Regions from separate parts of the Homo sapiens genome. Here all the other regions are linked to region 1. Evidence: fine-mapped QTL for protein levels in blood plasma. A gene starts in region 1. Each other region holds a variant in brackets. All regions are shown on one strand. Distances are between the middles of the regions.

Region 1 (5,000 bases):
GGAAAATGGAAAAAAAAAAATGATTTTTTTTTTCCAAACACTTTGTCAGTTTCCCCAGCGGTCACCTTTGAAAAGGGAAAAATGTCTGAAAATAGACAAAGCTGAATATAAACATCATTTAATTCCCCCCACACAGACAGCCTCCGCTCCTGTGAGGGCGTGGGGAAAACGGAGTGGGAGAAGGGGGCTAGCGAGGAGGAAGAGGCGGGAGGTGCGGCAGGGGCACAGGTGACGCTCCTCCCGCCTGCCTAGCAGAGCTCCAGGCGCACATCCGCAGTCAGCCACCTCGCGCGCGCCTCCAGGAGCAAGGATGGAGAGGCTGGTGAGCGGGGCCGGGGCTTGGGAAGGAGGGCGCAGGGCAGGCGATGTTGAGCCGGTGGCCCTGGGGCGGGCGGCGAGTGGAAGGCGCGGAGCTTCGGCTCTTGCCACAATCTGGTCCGGGGACTAGATCAGCGGTGTTGATGGCAGCGCTTTTCTCTAAGCGCTTTCTCTTGCTGAGAAACGGATTTTGCCTTCCAAAGGGTGGTTTACAGGCAGCTGCTGGCGTCCAGATTCTCCATTCCAATTGCCTGAAAAAAAGATGCACCAGGCCGGGGCTCCGGGGGCTCTTGATCCGCGCTGACGAAGCTGGCGCATCCTCCGGGCAGGCTCGGCTCGGCTCACTGGCTCCAGCTCCCAAAACTGGGGAGGCACAGCCTATTTTAAACTGCCCCCAAAAGGGAAAGAGAAATGCTGTATTGGTTCCATATTGGCACCAAAAGCTGCGGCGGAGATACAGATTTCCAGGCTCGCTTTCTCCGGGAGAGCTCCTGCGTCTCCTCTTTGTTATGCAGCCCCTTTCTCCCTCCTAGCCCTTGCCTGGGGGAAGCCATGAAGGATCAGTTAAAGCTGAAGCTACACTTGAGAGAGCTGAAATGCTCTGTGATCATAATGCTTTGAAGGGTTAACCCCGGGTATCTAGAGAAACAGACATTTTGTTTATTCGGAACCAGCTTACAAGACAAAAAACGGAGAAGGTTTTCATATATCCCATTGGTATATGAAATCCAAATACAATGGTATTGGTATAAGAATCCAAATACAGTGAATGCCTCAAGATAATTTTTTCATGTATGGTTTGTTGGCAAGACCACATAGCCAATGATTTCACTGTCTTTCTTAACAAAGGAGAATGGTGGTCTGTGAGCTACGGTCTACTGCAAGCTAGATGCTGTTAATCTTCTTTGTAACTATCCTTCTAAAAATGAATTATTACCTCGTTTTACACATAAACAGGCGGAAAGGCTGATATTTCCAAGTCCTTGTGACTACATGTGGGGTAATGTGGATTTGGACATAGAAACTTGCTGAGGAAGAGGCATGAATAGGGGCAATATAGCTACCAGGTGGGCAGCTGTCTGGTAAGACCCAGGTTTTTGTGAACCCTGGACTGCATGGCAAGGGTTATAAGTGGGCTTCTTTGTTTTCAGGACTGTAGTTCCCCCTATATGATTTGATCGATTAATTTTTTTAGCTACCTAACACGTATTGGCATTTACTATAACCTAGGCTCTATACTAAGTGCTTTAATTGCCTAATTCTCATAATAACTATGTGAGATAAGAGCAACATTTATTTAGTGCTTATTTCTACTGGCAGTATTCTAGGAGCTTTATATACTACTTCATTTAGTCTTTTTAACCATTAGATTGGTACTATTACTTTTCCGGAGTCTCAGAGAGGTAAAATGATTTCTTTTGCTCACAAATCTAGTATTTGTTTTAGCCCCGGTCACCTCCCTGTAAACATATAAATACTGTTGTTTTCAGATTGGTCGTATTTTCAGTTATTCTGCACAGACTCGAGGAAAAAAAAAACCTGTAAAATAAAAATACGTATCTATTTAAGAGTAAGGCTTTCCTTCTGATTTCCTTTGCCTCAATCACTGTGTTTTGTTTCTTAACATTGCTGGCTCCCAGTCCACAATATATGGTTTGGTATGTATCTGCTTTCTCTCTTGTCCTAAAACACAGATTTTCTCTATGAGAGCTTGTCCATTCTGCATTCTTCATCATGGCCTCTGGTAGAGCCTGGATTTCCACGTCAGAGAAGCCTAATGGTTTAAAAAATATCACATAGAATTGGAATGCCAGTATCTGTCTCCACAATTGCCTTAGCTGAAAATAAAACAAAATGTGTTGGGTGGGCACTGGCAATGGAGCCTGAGGAAATATTTGGCCTGATTTTTTCTGACTTTCCTAGATAATTAGATAGGATGGAACAGTCTCAGTAATACTGAGAAAATTATCGAGTTATATATTTTTTTTCACTTCAAAACCAAAGCCTTTGTGAGTATAATACCCAGCAGTGGATGGGCAGGGTGAGCAGATCTTTGTAGGCTGTATGTATTCAGGCAGCTGAACCATCTTGGGTTTCTCAAAGAGCAGTGACTATGTTATTAGTCTTAGACCTATGAAGACAGGAAGAGAAGTCACAAGGAAGGGATAGCATGCTTATGGTATGCTTGGGTATCGAATAATAAAATATATCTGCAAAGAATAATTTGTCCTAATGGCACCTTCAGATGATATAATCTTGAATTCTCTGTAGCCTTAGAGATGTAAGGAAAAAGCAACTTACATCACAAAGATCAGTATTACTGTGTACTATGATGCCACTGCATGGGGTCCAGGATGAGAGTCTAAGTGATTGGTTCTCTCTAGCTGAAGACAAGAAGACACTCAGGTATGTGGCAGCACTTGGGATAGGCCACAGGGCGGCGAGACATCATTCCTTCCAGGACATCTATCCTGAAAGATCCATCAGGAATACTGTGATGGAGATAGTGATGGAGACTCCTTGTCTCTGGCAGTTAGAGTGAATGCTGAAGAAGAGCCCTTTTCCAGCAGGCCAGTCTCTAACATGATCTTGGGTCTTCACCCAGACCATGACAGCTCTGGTGCTCAACACACACAACCACCTCCAGGGTACAAGTTGGCCCCAAGAGAGCTGAGACAATATTGGCTCTAATTTTTATCATCTCATTGATCTCAAACCACAGACTCTGACCAGGACAATTGGGGGCCCTCTCCTTACAGCTACACTCCTAGGAAAGACCACCATCAATGATTACCAGGTAATTTTCTACCCCTACCTATGAAGGGACTTGGTTAGTAACTTCTCTTGCTAGAGGAAAAATGAAGCTTATTATATAAGATTAATGTTTGTGAAACACCTGTTATTTGGAATTGGTTTGGTACTTCCTCTTGAAATTTCCCTCATTAAGTTTAGGTCGTGGCTGTTTCATAAGGAAAGAAAAGGGCATGTATTGACTGGAATTAAAATTAACAAATCCATTGAGTAGGAGGATATTAAAATTGAGTGGCTCCCATTGGACAGGAAAAGGAAGAGAAATCCTTGTGGCAGGTAAAGGAGGAGAGATTTAGATCCTTGAGAACTCCATTCCCGACCCGCTGCTCCTGAGCCCACAGGAAGAAGGCCATCACAAGACAATAAAAATCCCAGAGAAATTGAAAGGCAAACAGAAAGACCCAGCTTGGAGTGATAAGGAAAATGAATTCCAGCAGGGAAGTCATTGTATCTAAAAGGAATGGCAAAAATAGGGCTTAGTTAAGGCAAACACCGAGAATGAGGGGATGGGATTCCCACAGGTAGAACACCACCCTTTAGCAATGATCCTGACCCTAAAGCAAGGTCATTTAAGTGATTATGGGCCAATATTCTAGAAATAAGCTTCAAATTATAGTAGCAACAGATGGGGCTAAACAGGAGCCGATAAGAACATACAAACAACTTCAGAAAGGGATGCCCGTGATGGGTTCATTAAGGAAAAAGTGGTCAGGACATCCCGCTAAAGCAACAGGATTCAGTGGATATTGAGGTTCTTGGGGGGCAATGAGACAGGCACCAAGAGACCACTACTTTATGGAAGACTATGATCATACTGCTAAATACCATAAAAGAATAGACAGAGCCAAATAAGAGACTGTTTCTAATGAAACAAGCAGACAATGTCCCAACCTCAGGAATTTAACTCAGTCTGAAAAAGAAGAGTAGTTTCAAAACTGTCAAGCCTGCTTTAGTGCTATAATTTTTTTCACTGACAAGAGAGAATGAAAGACTGATAGCTGGGGGAGTGGCGGGGGGTGAGGGGTGTTGACAGGTAGTAAGCATGCTGGAAACAGTGTCTCAAGGTGTGGGGTATATGGTGGGTATATTTGGGAAGTAGTCATTTTCTCTCAAACTGGAAAGCAGATGGGTGTGTTCAGACAAGATCTGGAAGCTGTGGCATGGCAGACAAAGGGAGATGGGACCCCTTTGGCACTGGAGGAAGAGGCTTGAATCTTCTTGGAGCACTAAAAGTTCCAAAAGACCTAAGCAGAAAATGCTTCCGAAGAGGAGGATCTGTATGGCAAGATGACTGTAATCAGGCTCATAAAAGTAAGACCTTACATAAATACAAGTGAGGGGGAAGACATTTCATGTAGGAGGAATGGCTCAAGCAAAAATACCAAGGCGGGAAATTGCGTGGTGCGTTTAGAAGTAGAAAAGGCTAGCTGGCAGGGAGGGGATACATAGGAAGGCAATGGAAATGAATTTGCAAGAATGAAAACAGGCTAAGAACTTTGAACAATTTTCTCTAGATAGTTAGGGGCTATAGAAGAAGATGGCATCTTGTACAAAGAGGAATTTAAGGAAAATTAATCTGTCAATAGTGTGTAAATACATAAGCTGGATAGTAAACTTAACTAAGTTAGGGACTATATCTGCCTTATGCACCATTGTCTCCAAAGTACCTACCATAGTGCCTGGCATGAAGTCAGACTCAATAGAGATGATTAATAATAGAATAAATGAAAGAAGTATAGTTGTCCCTTGGGACCCATGGGGGCTTTGTTCCAAGACCCTCACAGATACCAGTTGGTGGATGGTGCAAGTCCCTTATATGAAATGCTGTAATATTTGCATATAACCTATGCATATCCTCCCATATATATAAA
Region 2 (5,214 bases), 39 kb after region 1:
AGAGAACTGCTTCTATCCTGAGATAGACTCAGGAGGTAAGAACTACTGGCTTAATCACATGGTTGAGCATTCATTCCAACTAATATTTATTGAGCATCAATTATGAGAAAGGTATTCTGCTTGGCTCTATTGATATAAAATAAATAAGACAAGATGCTTTCTCTAGAGATGCTGTGGGAAGTCGTCATATAAACTGTGACAATGTTGGACTACAGGATGACAAATATTCCAGGCAGAGAGATCAGCATATGCAGAGGCAGGAGGTGTGGAACACCAAGTGAGGCTAAGGAAGGGAAGCATTAGGCTGGACGTTAGGGTGGGCAGCAGAGAAAGGAACATGCAATGTACTGGAAACATAGGCTGGGTTCACACCACAGAAGGCTGTTCCAATATAGGAAGTGTGCCTTTGCATTTTGACCCTGACACTAAAAGGATGTGCGATCTAATGTTAGATGAATTCAATTGAATTGGTGAATATTTCCCTCAGTCAGATATCTGACTCCGTAGACTCAGGTTTATTCTAAAGACAGAAATTTGATATATTTCATTCTGGTCAATGGCAGGCTATATCAAAGGAATAAACAAGGAAATTTCTTGGTTTTGCCATTGTTTCATAGCACAAAGGGGACAGAGGAATTGGGTGATATATTCAGTTTCTGTAATTTTTGTTTTATTTTATTTTTTGTTTATTTTATTTTTTGTTATATATTTATTTATTTTTATTTTATTATATTTTATACTCAGGGGTACATATGCATGTTTGATACACAGATATATTATGTACTATTGGGGATTGGACTTCTAGTGTACCCACTATCCAAATAGTGGATTTCCTGTTATTTTTTTCCACATTGAATCGTATATGGGCCCCCATCAGATAATAGTAAAATCATTGAGCTAAGAGGCCTCAGAACTATCATGTCTGACCCCTATATTTTACAGATGAAGAAATACATTTTACTCAAGATTACACACACAGATAATGATGCAACTTTGGTTTTGGCTGAAAGGTCTTCATGGGTGGTTTCATTCAGAGCTGTCAGGAAAGGAAGCAAAAATTCTGAAAGAGTATGAGGTGGAATATTGAATTTCATTGCTTCATAAATCAGTCTAGATTGTTGTGTTCCTTATTCAGCTGTTCATGGGAATTCCCACTGAGGCAGTTGAAATAGTTGAGAGACAGGTGACTATGCAACAGGACTACATACACCGAAAGAATGGTCAGTTGCCCATACAACTTAATTTAATCCTGAGGACCAGTATCTTCAGGCCTTTCTCAAGCCTAGGTTTATATATACTAATTCTGTTTGATGATATACTGTCATTGGGAACGCCCGACTTTATGCCTGGGTGGATCAATCACACAGTTCATAATTATGGGCAAAAAGTAACTTGGTATCCCAATGATCAAGGACTTCCAGGGCTCAATTGTAAGCCAAAAGCTGTTTCTCAAAAGGAAATAATTTCGTTTTTCTGAAAATGTGTATGGCTTCACTCCAAAACCGAGCTTTGAACTGTAATTCTTTTTTTCTTTTCTTTTCTTTCTTTTTTTTTTTTTTTGATGGAGTCTTGCTCTGTTTCCCAGGCTGGAGTGTAGTGGCACAATCTTGGCTCACCTCAACCTCCACCTCCCGGGTTCAAGCAATTCTCCTACCTCAGCCTCCCAAGTAACTGGGATTACGGGTGCCCACCAACACACCCAGGTAATTTTTTTTTTTTTTTTGGTAGAGACAGGGTTTCACCATGTTGGCCAGGCTGGTCTCAAACTCTTGACCTCAGGTGATCCGCCCACCTCGGCCTCCCAAAGTGCTGGGAATACAGGCGTGAGCCACCACACCAGCCAAATTGTAATTCTTCTGTTGTGACTTGCCCCAGGCTCCTTGCAGCATCCTATTTGACAGTTTGAGCACAATCACATCTACCCATGCACCCTCTTTCATGGGATCCATAGATCGTCTCCCTGTCTCTGCTCTGTTCCTTCTCTCTCCCCACACGTGTGCTGATTCACTTTACCCAAAAGCTTGAGATTTTAGCATTTTGTAAAATAAGAATAAGTTACTATTCTTTTTCCCTCGCCACATCCTTTTCCTGAGGCAGTGAGCAAAAAGACCCCACCTGTTATAACGCACAAAAGGGAAATGGTAATGAATAGGAAGTAAAAATAGACGCTAACATTGTAATATTATTTTGGCACATGCCTGGAACATTGTAGAGCTTCAGTAACATCAGCCATTTTTTCCTTAATATGAACAAGAGGAAATCTAACAGCTTCTTCAACCATTGAAAAAGCAGTTCTATGAAAGAGAAAATAGATGTGTTCATTGGAGGTGGTAGTGGGTTGAATTGTATCCCCCCAAATATAGGTCTACATCCTAATCCCCAGAACCTATGAATATGATATTATTTCATAAGTGAGTCTGTGCAGATATAATTTAAGAGTCTAGACATGAGATCATTCTGGATTATCTGGGCATGCCCTAAATCCAGTAAAAAGTGTCCTTATACGAGACATACAGAGGACAGGAGAAGGCAATGTGACCACAGAAGCAAAAATTAGAGTGATGTGGCCACACGCTGAGGAACATCTGGAGCCATCAAAAGCTGGAGGAGGTAAGAACAGACTGCCCCTAGAGCCTTTGGATGGAATGTAGTTCTGCAAACACCTTGCTTTTAGAACTGTGAGAGAATAAATTTCTATCATTTTCAGCCACCATATTTGTGGTCATTTGTTATGGCAGCCATAGGAAACTAACACAAAGATCCAGAGAGCAGGACCAGAACCAAAACAGAAAAAGTGAAAGATAAACTTTCCTATTATTGAATCTGCTCAAGAGTGTGAGAGACTGAGTTATGAAATAGTTGGCTTCAGTAATTGGAGTTGGGTTTCAGTGGTTCAATGGTCAAAAGGGAGAGAGGCTGGTGACAGGGCGAGATCTTATCTCTTAAAAAAAGGGAGGAAGAGAGTTTATTGGGTGGAACTGGAAATTTTTATAAACTCATGCTCTTATTTATTCAGATTTACATATTCCCGACCATAGTTTTTTGGAAGC[G/A]CATCTCAGGAATTCCCAGATTTTACTCATGCTGTTGCCCATAACCTACGGTGTGGTTAAGAATAATACAATTGGTCCAAACAGGAAGATTAGTTTCCAGGGAAGGAATAAGTCACTGTTGATTATGCCAGGAAAATAGGCTGGAATCATCAGGCAGAGCTTCGCATCTGTACAGCTATCTCCCTGCAGCTGATTTATCTAATGCTTTCTATGATTGCAGACGAACAGACTTTCCGATGGACAAATAAAGAAGCTGCCTTATTTATATTAATATAACCTCTTTCTTTGAACCTCTAGCCTGCCTGGGACACAAAATCACATAGTTTCAAATGACATTAAAGTTAGCTAAGCAATTTTTCTTGCCATTGAGAGAGTAGAAAATTAATACTTTGAATCCAGTTAGGTTACCCTGTTAGATGACTGTTTGGAATCCACAGGTAGGAGTTCTTAACCTGGGCTCAGGGGCATACATAAGGGGACAACTCCACGGTCCCCTTGAAATTCTAAGCAATTTTTTGCTTTCTAGAAGGACTCTAGTGACCTCCATATCACTAAGTTTAATGATTTTTCTTTACCTCTTCTGTACATGTCTCACATTAGACTCTTTCTTGAAATTCATTGTCATCTGTAATATGATGTGCCCTTGATTTTCTCATCTTTCCAGCCCAACCTCCTGTACTTAATTTTTAAATTTTGCAATTCTCGAAAACTTGGATAGAGGCTGTCTTGTTTGCTCATAGTGTACTCTTTCCCTGTGTGATCTCATCCATGCCATGTCTTCAGTTATGATCTATACACTCACAAGTCCAAAATTACTACTTCTAACTCCTTGGAGCTCAGATATATGTATCCAGCTGTCTACAAAACATCTCCACTGGCTGACTTACAGGCAACTCAAACTGAACAGGTCCAAAGCTGAACTCCTGGTCTTTCCCAGTCCCATAACTGGTCCTCCTCCAGTTTTCTCTATTACAGTGAAACAGGAGAGTTCCCTGATCCCCCTCGAAGGACATATGATGGGTGTGGCTCGCCTGTTCAGTCACCAGCACTCCTCAAACCCCTTAGGGGAGGGGGAGCACACAGACAGGCAGGTGAAGGAGCCTAAGTGGAGTGTGTTACAATGTGCCCTTTTAGCCTTGCCATCCACGAATGGCTTGGGTGTTAATCAGCTCAGTGGACTCTCTGCCTTTCTGCAAGGGCAGAGGGGCAGTTCAACAGCTTTCTGTGTCCTGAGCTCTTGCCCAGCATCTTGGAAAAATCAGGTCACACACGGGCTTGAAGGATGAATGAGAGGTTTTATTGAGTGGTAGAGGTGGCTCTCAGTGGGATGGATGGGGAACAAGAAGCAGGGAATGGAGTGGGAAGAAGATCTTCCCTGGATTTTGGCCATCTTGTGGCTGAACCCTTCTCTGACCACCCCAGCTGGAAATCTCTCAGTGTTCAGACATTCCTCTTCTTTTCTCTTTCTCTATTGCACCATTTTGCAATCCATCTGCTTGTCTCCTCATCTTCTCATCTGCTTCTGGAGCCTGGGGCTTATATGAATACAGGATAGAGGGCATGGTGGGCCAAAAGGCAACTTCTTCACATGAAAACAGAAATGCCTGTCCCCATTTAGGACCACAGGACTTCAGGCTTGAGATAGGGGCCTTTGCCAGGGAACCACCCTCTTCTACCTAGTGTTTCCCTGTTTCCTGTCCATATCAACAGGGGATGGTGTCATCATCCATTTGGGCACAGGGTTCACTAGAGGGACAGGACTAATAGGATAGATGTATATATGAAGGGGAGTTTATTAACAAGTATTGACTCATGCGATCACAAGTTGAAGTCCCACAGTAGGCTGTCTGCAAGCTGAGGAGCAGGGAAGTCAGTCCAAGTCCAAAAACCTCAAAAGTAGGGAAGCTGACAGTGCAGCCTTCAGTCTGTGGCCAAAGGCCCAAGAGCCCTTGACAAACCACCGGTATAAGTCTCACAGTCCAAAAGCTTTAGAACTTGGTGTCTGATATTCAAGGGCAGGAAGCATCCAGCACGGGAGAAAGATAAAGACCGGAAGACTCAGCAAGTCGGCTCCTCCCACCTTCTTCTGCCTGCTTTATTCTAGTCTTTCTGGCAGCTGATTAGATTGCACCCACTCAGATTGAGGGTGGTCTGCCTCTCTCAG
Region 3 (5,000 bases), 16 kb after region 1:
GGAGCAGAGATTATAAAGACAAGAAGTTTTAGCAATAATAGCCACGTCTTTTCTCTGTGTAGTTTTGAAGCACTGACTCTTGATGAAGCAGTCAGTAATAAGCCTCCTAAAAAGTATTACTCCTCTTTTTTGGAGAAATTATGAGCAATAAACTGGAAAAGCTTTCTACACCCACCTCTTTACTGCAGTGGCCTTTGGAGTCCCTGAAAACCCAGACTAATCAGAAATTGGATATTTAGGTAAATTTGGTCAAAAAGACTTGCAGTGTTGGATTTGGATATTTGTGAAGAGATCTTCAGATTCAGCCATGGCAAAGGGTATATTTCCTGGAAAAACAAGAACCTAAAAAAGAATGTCTTTTTTTTTTCCAAGAATGCCAGATTTGACTTATATCACTTACAGTGTTTATATACCACTTGTATAATGTTTGTTTATTCTGTGAACATTTACCAAAAAACTTCCATGCTCAAAGCATTATGTCAAGCACTGGACCTATAGAAATCAAACAAATCCCTGTCTGAGGTCTGAGGTGTTCAGTTAAATAATGATGTGACGAATCCCATTATGGAGGTATGGAGAAGATGCTAGAGACTCCCAAATCAAGGAGTTCCTCATTTGCCTTTGCATTGCAACATGACACTGAGGAACTGATATTTAGGCTGAGTTGCATTAAAGACATAGATAAGAAGAAATTTACCAAAAACTTTGAGATGAGTTATCTCTGGGGGTTGAAATCATGAGATTCATGTTTCTTTCTTTGTACTTCTCTGCATTTTCCACAATTTCCTCAATAAACATGTATTCTTTTAATAGACAGTATGGCAAAGAATATGTGCTTTAGAGGCAAACAGACTTTCAACCAAACCTTGGCTATCCCATTTGTTATTCTGATTTTGATCTCAGTTAAATTCTCAAAGCCTCAGTTTTCTTTAAATCTGTTAGAAAATAATAACTCTTGGGATGTTTTGAGGATTAAATGCGATAAGTTTAAAGCTCTTATTACACAGTAGCCAGATAAAACATGTTAGCTATTACTAATATCTAAATATTATTAAAATAATATGAAGTCATACGTATAAACCTACATATGTATGTATTTAAGGATAATTTTAACTAAAAGCTCAACTCTTTTTGCCTCAACAATTTCCTCATGTGATGTCATTTTCCTTTTTCTTTCTTCAATATCTATAGGCTATTGGTTTTCAGTTCCGCTATTGCTAAGCATTGTTTCCCTGGTAATTCTTCTCGTCCTAATCTCAATCTTACTGTACTGGAAACGTCACCGGAATCAGGACCGAGGTGAGTTGTCACAGGGAGTTCAAAAAATGACATAAATTAAATTTGATTTTTAATGACAATTTGTGAGTCATTTGAAGATATAAATAAGGGAATGGCAACAATGTGTTTTGTCTGTTGTTTCCAAAATACAGAAATGTTGATACTGTTTTAAAATGCGTCGGGGCATTTTCTTGCAATTGGACATTAAATTGGACATTTCTGCTTTTTGTTTGCTAAGATGACTTAAAAGCTAATGAAATCAAACAATGGTGATAGAACCAAAGAAAGAAGTCTGGCACCCACACAAGGCCCTTTCCACTCATTAATGAGAAGGACAATCTCTTCTCTTTTTATAGCACTTCACAGGCCATCTGCCCATTTAAGAGGCTGCAATTGTCCAATTATGATCACTCATTAAGTAGCACTTTCTGTGTTATACTCCCACGATGCCTCAAACACTGTCAGCATCATGCAAGTGATCCATACTTACAGTAACTGTGTCATGCCATTCTGCCCTTCTAGACTGTAAATTTCTCTTTATCTTTCACAACTATCACAGCATCTTATATATACCAGGGTCTGAATAAATGTTAATTTACTGAATGAACTGATTGAGGACAGAGAGAATTTTTAAGGTGATTTTTTTTCAATTCCTTTTCTCCTATTGTAAATTCAGTACCTCATAAACGCCAGTCTAAGATATTGTGAGAAATTATAAAACAAGAGACACTATAAAGCAAGAGCAGTGAGCTAGATAGAGAGGAAGAATGAAATGTCTTTGGTTTCTGTAGACAATGCATAATTTATTGAAGTGAATACAAAGCTGCAGTTTATGTTTTGTGTAATGGAAATTTGCTAGGGTGAAGGGGTGATGTGGGAGTTTCCTCCATTTCAGATGACTGAAGGATAGGGGTCAGGAAAGAAAAATAGTTGGCTTTGATAGCTATTTTAGACTTTGATTAAAAATCTCACTCATTTTTTCCTTTCATTTTATGTTTTATAGAAATGTTTCCTTTTAGTTTTATGTTTATATTTTTATGTTTTTGTTCATGTTTCAAGTTTTTGACCACTTTATTTTGCATAATCCTCCAGATTAATTCTTGTGAATTTATAAAACAC[C/A]CAAAAAGCCTTCAGTGTCAGTGGCCCTTTTGCAAAAGTAGGTAAAGGTATTTGTTCTGTCCAGGAGAGAAGATTACAAATCAGTTAATCTTACTACACATAATTATAAGCCTGTGGAACTCATAAGTGCTCCACAGAATAAAATCAAAGACAGAAGTCTGTTTGATTCTACTTTATCCAGAAATTTTTCTTTTCCAATTAGGAAACTGAAGCCCAGAGAGGAAAGCTGACTTCCTTCCATAAGTTTATACAGCTTCTTAAGAGCAGGCTAGGACTAAACCCCGGTGCCCTGACCTCTGCCAAATGTTCTTCCTGTCATTACTGATGCCCCAATGTCTTGACTTGAAAGGAGCTATTGTTATCAGTTGCATTCACTTAATCTGTGCTTACTGTCTATGCCCTTTTCTTTTGGAAAGTGCAAGCAGACAAGTATAAAGTATTTAAATTCATTTTTAAAAGTCCCTCTTGGGCAAAAGTTTTATAATGCAATCTACTCAAGCCTGAGGTAAATTCTACTGGAAAGAGACATGCAAAATAATTACCCTTGTTCATTAAGCAAGTCTTGGATTTTCTGGGAAATATAGTCATTCAATGCCAATATCCGATTCTTGAAGCAAAAAGAATCAGCTTATTTCTCTGCCCAAGTTTTTCCTCACTTATGAAATAAATACCTGAACCTATGTTGACTCCTGTACGCATCAGGATTGCCATTTACTGATGATGTCTTCATGACATATGGCCAATTGCATTAATTCCTCTGAATGACTGGATTTTTGACTCATTTCTTTTCCATTTGTGTTGCTTACAAAAGTTACCTGAGGCTGGGTAATTCATAAAGAAAAGAGGTTTATTTGGTTTCTAAAGGCTATACAAGCACAGTGCCAACATCTGCTTCTGGTGAGGGCCTCAAGCTACCTCCACTAATAGCAGAAGGAAAAGGGGAGCCAGTGTGTGCAGAGATCAGATGGCGAGACAGGAAAATAAAAGAGGGTGCTGCCAGGCTGTTTTACCAGCTCTCATGGGAACTAACAGAGAGAGAACTCACTCACACCAAGGGCATTAATCAATTCCCAAGAGATCTTCCCCCCTTAAACACCTCCCATTAAGCCCCACCTCTAACACCGGGGATCAGATTTCAACATAAGGTTTGCAGGATCAAGTATCCAAACTACAACAACTGATTTAGAAATTTTAACAGCCAGATAATTTGGCATCATACACTTACAGCTAGTAAAACCAAGAGTCAATTATGCTGAAGCTTAAATGCTCAGGGCTAAGAAAATACTGGTTCATTTAGACCAAACTTCAGGTTATACAAAAAGTTGGGACAAAGAAAAGAGAAAGGACAGAAAATCATAGAAGATAGTGACACTTTTTATTTCTACCATTAACAAATTCTGATTGATATTTTGTGAGGAAGGGAAATAGTCCTACACATTTGCCTTCCAGTTGTTTTCATCCTTACTTTTCTTTTCTTTCTCTTTTTCTTTCCATCATCTGAAAACATAAAATTTCCAAATGAGCAGGAAAACACGATTGGTCCAAAATAATACAAAGGTTTTGAACTTGGTGACCTCAAAAATGGTGATGTGAACAGAAACACTAAAGTGAAGAGGTGGAACTGAGAGAGAGAGAGAGAGAGAGAGAGAGTGTTTAGAGTTTGTAGAAAAGCAAAGGAGACAGACGAATAAGTTTTTGAATTTATTGAGTGTGAGCAGACAAAGAATTATCTTCATGTAGCTGTCCAGTAGCCAATAATAAAAATCTGGTAAGTAAGGTAAGTCTGTTAAGTAAGGTCAATTCTGTGTTGGGTAAATGACCAAAACAGAAGTTTATTTTAGGTCATAATCACTACTCATTGCTCACAAATGCCTAAGCAAACTTACAGTTACTGATGTTATTTTTACGTAGAAGTTAGACGACCATTACTTTTCTTGTGATCCTGTATAATGCCAGAGAGCATGACGTTGGTTTTTTCCAACTGCGAAGTAGCACAGGCCATTTTTCTGCACCACTCCTGATAGAATTATCACAGTTACTTCCCAGGAGACTACCACAGTAAGACTAATAAGATTTCAAAGAGCATTCTTTTCTCTTTCATGAATCCAGCACTTTAAAACAGTAAGTGAGAAAGAATTAAAATTTCCTAGGGAAATTTTCCACCATCTCGAAATACTTCTTTCTATTAAAACCCAGTGATTTCATAAAGTTGTGCCTTTCACATATATGACAATGTAGTTAAATTTGGAGTTGAGAATAATCTTTTATTTCTCATTAGTCAACCCACCAACAATTACATGCTTCTCAGAAACAATAAAAGAAACTTCACTTTGAGGCAGATCATCATAGACAATCACCTAATTTTTAGGCAGCTTTATTTTGTTTGGTTTGGTTTGCTTTGCTTTGGTTTGGTTGAGTCAAGGCTGCTTTGGAGAACAATAGAAAATTTAGACAATCATGTAAAATTTATATGCCAAACTTCACTTTTTTTTCAAGTACTAGCTAATCCATGTAGAAATATGTTTTTCATCTGCATGAGCTGTATATTTATCTTGATTTCCTTCTCTTCACAATAACCTAACCTATGAATGGGTTCCTGACAA
Region 4 (5,000 bases), 9.6 kb after region 1:
CAAGCAATTCTCCTGCCTCAGCCTCCTGAGTAGCTGGGATTACAGGTGCCCACCACCACGCCTGGCTAATTTTTGTATTTTTAGTAGAAACAGGGTTTCACTTTGTTGGCCAGGTTGGTCTCAAACTCCTGACCTCAAGTCATCCACTCGCCTCGGCCTCCCAAAGTGCTGGGATTACAGGCGTGAGCCACTGCACCAGGCATGTCTTACCCATGTCTATAGATTTTTAACATATTATGTTCTCATTGTCATTCAGTTATAATAATTTATGATTTTTTCTATGCTTTCTGGTGTACCTAAGACTTAAAAGAAGTATGTAAATTTCTAATTTTATTGTATTATGAACGGTGTTCAAGGCCATACGTAGGGTAGCAACTTTTTTGTAGCCTATTTTGAGTTCAATTTGGAGGAAGGTTTTATGTGTGTTTTGAAAAGATTATACATCCTTTCTTTGAGTAAAGTGTGTGTGTCTGTGTGTGTGTGCGTCTTATGATATCTTTATTCATTTAGTATGAGTTATTGGGTTTGTAAAGTTTATTATTTCTCTTTCATTGTATTGACTTTCTCAAAAGTTTGGCTATTTGTTATTATGTTGAGATTTTCCATCAAATAATCTATCATAGTATGAGTTGCTAATATTGGAGAAGGGAAGAAATTTATATTTATACACACACAGAGAGAGAGATCTACATACATATAAAGTATATAGTGTATATAATATAAACATATAAAACATTGATAATATTAAATACCTAAAGTATATATATAAATATATATTGTTTTTCAAATTTTCTTTTCTTTGTGACATGGACTTACCTTGTCACCCAGGCTGGAGTACAGTGCTGCAATCATTGCTCACTGCATCCTTGAACTCCTGGCCTTAAGCAATCTTCCTGTCCTATGCTCCTGAGTAGCCAGGACTACAAGTACATGACGCTACGGCTGGCTAATTTTTACATTTCTTGTAGAGATAAGGGTCTCATCTCTTGCCCACGCTGATCTTGAACTCCTGGCCTCAAGTGAGTCTTCTACTTTGACTTGCCAAAGCACCAGGATTACAGGCATCAGCCACTGTACCTGGTAGTTTTTCAAATTTCCTATTTAACTTTTTTTCCTTTAACAATTGTTTAAATATATTAAATTGAAGGTTCTCGGTATGATTGTGAATTTAAATTTTTTCTTTGTAATTCTATTAGTTTTGCTTTATATATTTCGGAGTTATGTTGTTAGGTGCATAAAGGTTTATGATTACTATAATAGATCTGATTTTAGATTGTTCCTTTTATCATTTTGAAAAATACTTTTTCCCTTCTTACAGTGGTTTTGTCTTCCATTCTTTTTTTTCTCTCCTTTTAGAAGTCTTACTGAACTGATTTTGGAACATTTAAGTCTACTTATTGAATTTTTCCTTAATCCCTTCCATATCATTATCTCTTTGTGCTACATTCTAGAATAATTTCATGGCCTGTTCTTACTTTTTACTAATTTACTCTTCAGTAGCATCTATTTTGCTAAGTCAGCCTATCTGTTGCAATTTTATATTCCTCATTTTCTATATCTCTAATTTCTACTATTCATAATGCTTTTATTATGCTTTTATTACACTTATATCATCACATGTATTCATGTCAAAGTATTTATTGTCTTATGATATCTTTATTCATTTTGTATGAGTTATTGGGTTTGTAAAGTTTATTATTTCTCTTTCATTGTATTGGCTTTCTCAAAAGTTTGGCTATTTGTTTTTATGTTGAGATTTTCCATCAAATAATGTATGATGGTATGAGTTGCTAATATTGAGGAAGGGAAGAAATTACCACCATAGCATTTAGTGAAAGCAGAGGGTGTGTAAATTATTATTTGTGTGCCAAAGCTTCAAGATCCTCCAGAACATTGTCCCATAAATCTCTTTACCTATGTTCCTATATACACTCTTGCTTCCTGGAGGCAGACACCTCTGTTCCACCTGCTTCCTTTGTAGATTGTGTATGTGTGTGTGTTTGTGTGGAATGCATAGGGCTGCTCCATCTTCTTTACTTACAGTGGTCACTCTGCCTGTTATCCTTTGGCCTTTTCCTGCTCTTTGCTTCTACTTCTCCAAGCATGGACAAGATTGGTGAAGCTGCTATCCTACCTGGCAGTTTACATCTTCAATCTCATTGTACCTACTTCGCAGCTTACACAGATCATTCACAATTTCTTGTAACTGAGAGTTGCTCTCTTGTTTTTCTACTCTGCTACTATTCTTTAAAGATTGAACAAACATATTTGAACCTATATATTTCTCTGGCATCACGTAGGAATGTAAATAAATGTTTTCTTTTTTGCATTTTCTCTTTCTTTTCTATATTTGACATTGAATATACATTTTATTTATAATCAGGAAAAAGTGTATGTGTGTTACAATCTTTAAATATAAATGTTCTTTTATGATTCCATAGTGCAAGTGGTGACCCAGGATGAAAGAGAGCAGCTGTACACACCTGCTTCCTTAAAATGCTCTCTGCAAAATGCCCAGGAAGCCCTCATTGTGACATGGCAGAAAAAGAAAGCTGTAAGCCCAGAAAACATGGTCACCTTCAGCGAGAACCATGGGGTGGTGA[T/C]CCAGCCTGCCTATAAGGACAAGATAAACATTACCCAGCTGGGACTCCAAAACTCAACCATCACCTTCTGGAATATCACCCTGGAGGATGAAGGGTGTTACATGTGTCTCTTCAATACCTTTGGTTTTGGGAAGATCTCAGGAACGGCCTGCCTCACCGTCTATGGTGAGAATCTCTGAGAATCATTGTCTGTGTCTGGAAATACTATTTGCAAGAATGTTTGGAATATAGCCGTAGTGCCCAGTTTTTCAGGATTTTAACCACAGAAAGGGTCATGAGAAGATAGCCTTTCTTGTCTACTATAGCTGTGTTTATGATTATTTGGAGAGTTCATGGGGCTACACTGAGTTCTTTGGCTGGAGCTATCTTTTCTCTGAGGGATCCTGCTGTCAACAGGAGAAATTTGAGGACAATGGTGAGGGCAACAAGTTCTCCATAAGCAGTGATATGATTCAGACCTGGCTTTGCCACTAGCAATCATGCGACCCTAGAAGGGTCCTATCCACTCTCCACTGGAGTTTCATTGTCTGGACAATAAGTGTGAAATAGATCATTTCTAGGGTCACTTACAACTTCAACTTTTTGGATCTAAGGACAGAGCCAGATTGGACTAGCCTTGAGCCAGTTATGATTGTCCTTCTCATTTTGCTTGGGGAGATAGCTCTTTCAGGATTGATAAGGGCACATAGAGCAGAGCCTTTTCATACCTGAAATGATGCCAACTAAAGATATAACTGGGCAAGAGCATTCTTTTAAAATCCAAGAGGCTTAGTTTGATGAAATTCTTCTTAACTGACACACAGCTGAGATGAAAGGTTACGAAGTGAGAATAAGAGATTACTTTGGAGCATGGCACACACGGCAGTAGTTTTAGGGAGTAGAGGACAAACTTATGGTTATTAGGAATATTAAGGTGAGAGTTTACTCATGCCAATAATATTGCCCACAGGGAAGAAAAGGCTTAGTAGATGAGAATGCAAGGGAGATAGGACAATGCCAAAAGAAATTTCTTTTACTTATTTTGCCTATAATGAGTCCTCTCTGTAGAATCTTATGTTGTTTCTTTCTTGATTTCCACTTCTTTCATTCTCTCTTTTTCTGTTTCTCCTCCCTGTCTCCTTCCTTCCTTTCCTCCCTCTCTGCCTTCCTTTCTTCTTTCCTTCCTCCTAATTTTTCTTTTTTTCTTGTGTCATATTTTTCTCATTTCTGTTCCTTTTTATTCTCTTCCTCTTTTCCTCACCTTTCTTTCTCTTAGTCTCCTTCCTTCACTCATAGACTTTTGTATTTTTTTTTCCTGAAAAGCAGATGTCTCTGAGCTTTAAAGCTAGTAATTCTGTTCTCTTCCACACTGACCTTTTCCATCCACACCTTATAACTTTCATGTAAGCCATTCTTTGATACATCATAGGACCTCAACACTCAGTCTGGCCCATCAACCATATTCATGTTTTTTCATTTCTATTTCCCTTCTTCCAGCGCTCACAGACATTAGTAATCTTAGCCAGAGCCACAGTTCCATAGCCCTACTTCCCCAACCCAGTGTCTTCTACCTGCCTCTTGAACCTATAAGCACAGCCCAGGCTTTCAGTTAGCACTGCCATTTAATTATCTTGTGGGCTCCAAAGCCAACCACAGAAAGACAAGTTTACATCTGCTTAGAAAAGAAAAATTCTATATTCCAACAAAAATGAACTCACTAGTCAGGGGATTTTCAAAAGGGTACAGGCTACAGCTGGCCTGAAAATAATTTTCTCATGAGCTAGTTAGTTTTTCTTAACTTAATCAGGTGATTTCCAGTGCTCTTCCAACAGTCATTTCTTAATTTTTATGGTTATTAGCTACGAATTCCAAATTTTGGTTTTGTGTAGCTCTTCCAAAAAGGGATTTTCCAGCTCTCCTCCATGCGTCTAATTCACTGGTCCAGCTCCAAGAAGAAAATGGCTATCTCTAAGCAGTAGCCTTTCTATGGGCTCTCTGTTCCAAAACTGCCCTAGTGCCTCTGATAGGTACAGGACACATGTATGGCAGTGCTGGTTGGTGGTTATTGTCAAGCCATTTAAGAGGAATACCCAGAAGAAGGCAGAGATGCTGCATTGCCCCTGGAAGAGAACAGAATAATTAGGACTGTTTGGGAGAGAAAAGTATCATCTGACTTCTCAATACTCTATGTCCATCTGACAAATTCTGCTACAGACAAATTACAGAAAGGGTCTTTCTCATCACAGGTTTGTACTAGGCCAGTCTCCATCCTGCAGATCAGAAAATTAGACACAAGAGGAACTGGAAAGTCCCCAGTTTGGGTAGGATATGCCATGCTATCTTTCTAGCCTCCATTATCTTTCTATAAGCATATTTCCTTCATCTCTCTGAGGAGACTGCAGGACTCAGACCAGGTGC
Region 5 (5,214 bases), 920 kb before region 1:
TAGATTAAGTCAAGAAGAAATAGAAACTCTGAACGGACCAATAACAAGCAGTGAAATTAAAATGGTAATTAAAAACTTAACAAAAAAAAAAAAAAAAAAAAAAAAAAGGTCCAGGACCAGACAGAATCACAGTTGAATTCTATCAGACATTCAAAGAAAAATTGCTACTAATCCTATTGACACTATTTCAAAAGAAAGAGAAAGAAGGAATTCTCCTCAAATTATTCTATAAAGCCAGTATCACCCTAATACCAAAATGAGGAAAGGATATTAAAAAAAACTACAGACCAATATCCCTGATGAGTATAGGTACAAAAATTCTCAACAAAATACTACCTAACCAAATCCAACAGCATATCACAAAGACAATCCATGATAATCAAATGGGTTTCATATCAGGTATGCAGGGATGGTTTAACATACACAAGTCAATAAATGTGATATACCACATAAAAAGAATTAAAAACAAAAATCACATAGTCATCTCAATAAATGCAGAAAAGCGTTCAACAAAATCCAGCATCCTTTTATGATTAAAACCCTCAGCAAAATCAGCATAGAAGGGACATACCTTAATGTAATAAAGCCATCTATGACACACCCACAGCCAACATTATACTGAATGGGAAAAAAATGAAAGTATTTCCCCTGAGAACTGGAACAAGACAAGGATGCCCACTTTAACCACATCTATTCAACATAGTACTGGAAGTCCTAGCCAGAGCAATCTTACAAGAGAAAGAAATAAGGGGTATCCAAATTGGTGAAGAGAAAGCTGAACTGTCACTCTTTGCTGATGATGTAATTGTATACCTAGAAAACTCTAAAGAGTCATACAAAAAGCTCCTAGAACTGACAAAAAATTCAACAGTGTTTTAGAATACAAAATTAATGTATACAAGTCAGCAACACTGCTATACACCGACAGCAACCAAGCTCAGAATCAATTCAAGAACTCAACCTTTCTTACAATAGCTGCAAAAAATAATATACTTAGAAATATATCTAACCAAGGAGGTGAAAGACCTGTACAAGGAAAACTACAAAACACTGCTCAAAGAACTTATATACAACACAATTAGAAACACATCCATGCTCATGGATGGACAGAATCAGTATTGTGAAAATGACCATACTGTCAAAAGCAGTCTACAAATTCAATGCAATTCTCATCAAAACACCACCATCGTTCTTCAGAGAACTAGAGAAAAACAATCCTAAAATTCATATGGAACAAAAAAAGAGTGCACATAGCAAAACAAGACTAAGAAAAAAGAACAAATCTGGAGGCATCACACTACCCAACTTTAAACTATAAGACCATAGTCACCAAAACAGCAATGTACTGGTATAAAAATAGGCAATAGACCAATGCAACAGAATAGGGAATCCAGAAATAAACCCAAATACAATCAGCTGATCTTCAGCAAAGCAAGCAAAAACAGAAAGTGGGGATAGGACACCCTAATCAACAAATGGTGCTGGGATAATTGGCAAGCCACATGTAGAGAATGAAACTAGATCCTTGTCTCTTACCTTATACAAAAATCAACTCAATATGGATCAAGGACCTAAATCAAAGCATGAAACCATAACAATTCTAGAAGATAACATTGGAAAAACCCTTCTAGACACTGGCTTAGGCAAAAACTTCATGACCAAGAACCCAAAAGCAAATGCAACAAAAACGAATATAAATAGATGGGACTTAATTAAACTAGAAAGCTTCTACACAGCAAAAGGAACAGTCAGCAGAGTAAACAGAAAAACCAGAGTGGGAGAAAATCTTCACAATCTATACATCTGACAAAGAACTAATATCCAGAATCTACAATGAACTCAAACAAATTAGCAAGAAAAAAATCAAACAATTCTATCAAAAAGTGGGCTAAGGACATGAATAGACAATTCCCAAAATAAGATATACAAATGGTCAACAAACATATAAAAAAATGCTCAGCATCACTAATTATCACGGAAATGCAAATCAAAACCACAATGCAATACCACCTCACTCCTGCAAGAATGGCCATATTCAAAAAATAATAGATGTTGGCATGGATGTGGTAAAAAGGGAACAGTTTTACACTGCTGGTGGGAATGTAAACTACTACAACCACTATGGATAACAATGTGGAGATTCCTTAAAGAACTAAATGTGCATCTACCATTTGATTCAGCAATCCCATTGCTGGGTATCTAACCAGAGGAAAACAGGTCATTATATGAAAAATATACTTGCACACACATGTTTATAGCAGCACAATTTGCAATTGCAAAAATGTGGAACCAACCCAAATGCCCATCAATCAAGTGGATAAAGAAAATGTGGCATATATATACCATGGAATACTACTCAGTCACAAAGGAATGATATAATGGCATTTGCAGCAACCTGGATGGAATTGGAGACCATTATTCTAAGTGAAGTAACTCAGGAATGGAAAACCAAACATTGTTTGTTCTCACTGATATGTGGGAGCTAAGCTATGTGGACTCAAAGGCATAAGAATCATACAATAGACTCTGGGGACTCAAGGGAAGGGGTATGAGGGGTGTGAGGGATAAAAGATTACACATTGGGTACAGTGTACACTGCTTAGGTGATGGGTGCACCAAAATCTCAGAAATCACCACTGAAGAACTTATTAATGCAATCAAACACCACCTGTTCCCCCAAAACCTATTGAGATAAATAAACAAATAAAAATAAAGGTTTTTACTCTGGCTGAGGGGAACATAAATTATTCCCAGTCATGTGTGAGCTCCAGGGATTACTTATACTCAGCCTTTTGAGTAGATTTTTCTCCGTCATGGGTAGTATCTTCATAAAAATATGCTGCTTAATACTCAGGACCCTTGGCATATCCTCAGAACTCTTTCTCTATGCAGATCTCTCCTCTCAGGTATTTTAATTTTTAACTCTAGCCATGTTGACTCATCCAGTGTATTAGTCCATTCTCATACTTCTGTGAAGAAATACCCAAGACTGGGTAATTTGTAACCAAGGAAGCTTTAATTGACTCACATTTGCACATGGCTGGGGAGGCCTC[A/T]GGAAACTTACAATCATGACAGAAGAGGAAGCAGGCATCTTCATCACAAGGTGGCAGGAGAGAGAGTGAGCGCGCAGGAACAACTGTCAAACACGTATAAAACCATCAGATCTTGTGAGAACTCCCTCATTATCATGAGAACAGCATGGAGAAATTGCCCTCATGATCCAATCACCTCCCACCAGGTCCCTCCCTTGACACTTGGGGATTATAATTCAGATTACAATTCAAAATGAGATTTGGGTGGGGACACAGAGCCAAACCATATCACCTAGACACCAATCTTCATCTTCTCCACTCAATGAGTTTGCTGGTTTCTGTGTGGCTTCCCTCTCTCCCTGTGCTTTAGTCCAGAAACTCTCTCCAGGAAGTAAGCTAGTGAAGTTATATGGCTCACCTATTTGTCCTTCTTCTCTCAGTGATCATTGCTCTGTGCCACCTGATGTTTGTTAACAGATGTTTCATGTATTTTGTCTATGTTTTTAGTTGGTTTGATGAGAGAATAAATCTAGCCACTATTACTCAATTTTGCCTAGAAATAAGAATCCCAATATTCTCTGTACTCTCAGATGTTACTTTTCACACAATTTAACACATTTTAATATGCATCTGACTATGACACAATTTTTAGTTTAATATCAGTTCCAAAATATAACCTAAGTTACCTAATATTCTTAGTCTAAATGGCCTCGTTTTTGTAAGTGATATGGTTGGACCACATCAGTGGCATTCACCTTTCTATCTCCTCCAATAGATCTGAGTAATATTACAGAGATTCTCTCTGGGGGGATGATTCTCAGTATTTGGGGAGTGGATTGGTGTTCACTATCTTCATGAAATATAATAAAGGGGATTGTGTACTTTGGGAATATAAAGAAGTCTTTGGTGGGATGCATCTATTTCCTCAACTGACACTCTGAAGTAGATGATTCAATTCTAGGAACATCTATTGAACAACTTGAGTATTATATGAAACCATGTTCAGTTCCGTGAAAAGGGGAAATATTACTAAGACTGGTTTCATATCCCTAAATATTATATAATAAATAGTGGTAACCTCTAAAGTTCTGTTACTAAAAATGTCTGAAAATTATTATGAGAGTTGGGAAAATATATAATTGATATCAGAATACTAGAACTCATTGCATTAACAAAATTTGTTTCTAGTAGTCCAGATTTTTCAGATCACAAAAATGCAGAGGTACATGATGTGGTAGTCTGCATTGCCAACTAACATCTGGAAGAGTTCTTTAGGTCTCTGGTAATGGCCAAATAATCTAATCGATAGAAAACGATACATCATTTTGTATTTTTATGTTTTACAAATGTATTTTCAAATCTCAAACTCTCTAAGTCTCAAACTCCTCTAAATCTAAATTATAAATCTCAAACTCCTCTAAATATGTTAAAAAGATCCGTATACTTGTGAAAATTCACAGCCAATGGTATTTATCTATAATTCATTGACTCAAACACAAGAGCTAATTTGTCTGTATTATGCTTTAGAGACAGTTAATCACTGACACTATTTTTTTGCAATAAACTAGAATAGCTCAGTAATTTTCCCACTTAGTAGACTTTTTATTTCTTACCTACGTATCTAATATAATTAATGCATTTATGGATTAACTGTCTCAGACTGTGAAACAGCTGGTGCAGAAAACCTACTAATCACTAATTACTGTAGATTCCTTCTGGAAAATAACTTTCAATGTGCAGACCCAGGGGTTTCTAATCTAGTTAAAGGATTTCCAAGTGGGATGTGCAGCACTTCAGCCAATCTGTACAAACTAATTGCTATGTAGCTATGTAGCCTGAAATGTAATCAAAATCATATGTGCATAAACCAGAGAGTTGCATATTTAAAAACATTTTCTGGATGTGAATAAAAAGAATTGTTCAAGTGTGAGCTGGCACCAGACCAGCTTTGCAGTAAATCCCAAAATTCTGTTGCCATTTTCTTCCTTTCTCTGACTTTACTAAGAAAGGGTACAGTTTTCCCTATATCTTGATTCATGTTTTATATTTTCCAATTGTTATTTATAAGTGATACTTCTTACCTAATATAAAAGAAACACATTTTAGAATCTCAGGAGAAATAAGGGCAATTTTGTGCTGTGATGATGGGTCAAATAAAGTTGTAGTACCAGTACTACAGTAG

Which allele goes with the higher level. Positions count from the first base shown, and alleles are read on the strand shown. Strength reflects both the effect of a copy and how common the allele is. Not every link is listed here.
As copies of A replace C in region 3, the plasma level of the protein whose gene starts at base 254 in region 1 goes up (moderate association).
For the plasma level of the protein whose gene starts at base 254 in region 1, C is the low allele of the variant in region 4 and T is the other (weak association).
With allele T in place of A in region 5, the plasma level of the protein whose gene starts at base 254 in region 1 is lower (weak association).

Evidence for each region. PIP is the posterior inclusion probability: the model's chance that the variant is causal. The UK Biobank Pharma Proteomics Project read protein levels with antibody pairs (Olink). The fine-mapping took linkage between variants from a reference panel, not from the people measured, so its PIPs are less certain.
Region 2: its variant is fine-mapped to the plasma level of the CD200 protein (UK Biobank, PIP above 0.99).
Region 3: its variant is fine-mapped to the plasma level of the CD200 protein (UK Biobank, PIP above 0.99).
Region 4: its variant is fine-mapped to the plasma level of the CD200 protein (UK Biobank, PIP above 0.99). The variant lies in the coding sequence of CD200. If it changes the protein, the assay may bind it differently, which can mimic a change of level.
Region 5: its variant is fine-mapped to the plasma level of the CD200 protein (UK Biobank, PIP 0.96).

The regions. Positions count from the first base shown.
Region 1 is chr3:112,332,903-112,337,902 of GRCh38, forward strand. It overlaps CD200 (CD200 molecule), which reads left to right and starts at 254. Exons shown (of 6, transcript NM_005944.7): 1 at 254-322. The coding sequence starts at 311. RefSeq lists enhancers at 1-878, 879-1,835, 2,332-3,091.
Region 2 is chr3:112,371,516-112,376,729 of GRCh38, forward strand. LOC105374041 (a long non-coding RNA gene) reads right to left here. Exons shown (of 4, transcript XR_924334.3): 4 at 4,326-4,585. Among named protein-coding and RNA genes, the nearest start is that of CD200, 41 kb to the left of the region's middle. The variant G/A (reference allele first, on the strand shown) is at 3,051.
Region 3 is chr3:112,348,521-112,353,520 of GRCh38, forward strand. It overlaps CD200 (CD200 molecule), which reads left to right. Exons shown (of 6, transcript NM_005944.7): 5 at 1,192-1,299. Among named protein-coding and RNA genes, the nearest start is that of CD200, 18 kb to the left of the region's middle. The variant C/A (reference allele first, on the strand shown) is at 2,398.
Region 4 is chr3:112,342,521-112,347,520 of GRCh38, forward strand. CD200 (CD200 molecule) reads left to right here. Exons shown (of 6, transcript NM_005944.7): 3 at 2,442-2,768. Among named protein-coding and RNA genes, the nearest start is that of CD200, 12 kb to the left of the region's middle. The variant T/C (reference allele first, on the strand shown) is at 2,604.
Region 5 is chr3:111,409,877-111,415,090 of GRCh38, forward strand. The region is part of intron 2 of LOC105374039 (a long non-coding RNA gene); the gene reads left to right. Among named protein-coding and RNA genes, the nearest start is that of CD96, 130 kb to the right of the region's middle. The variant A/T (reference allele first, on the strand shown) is at 3,054.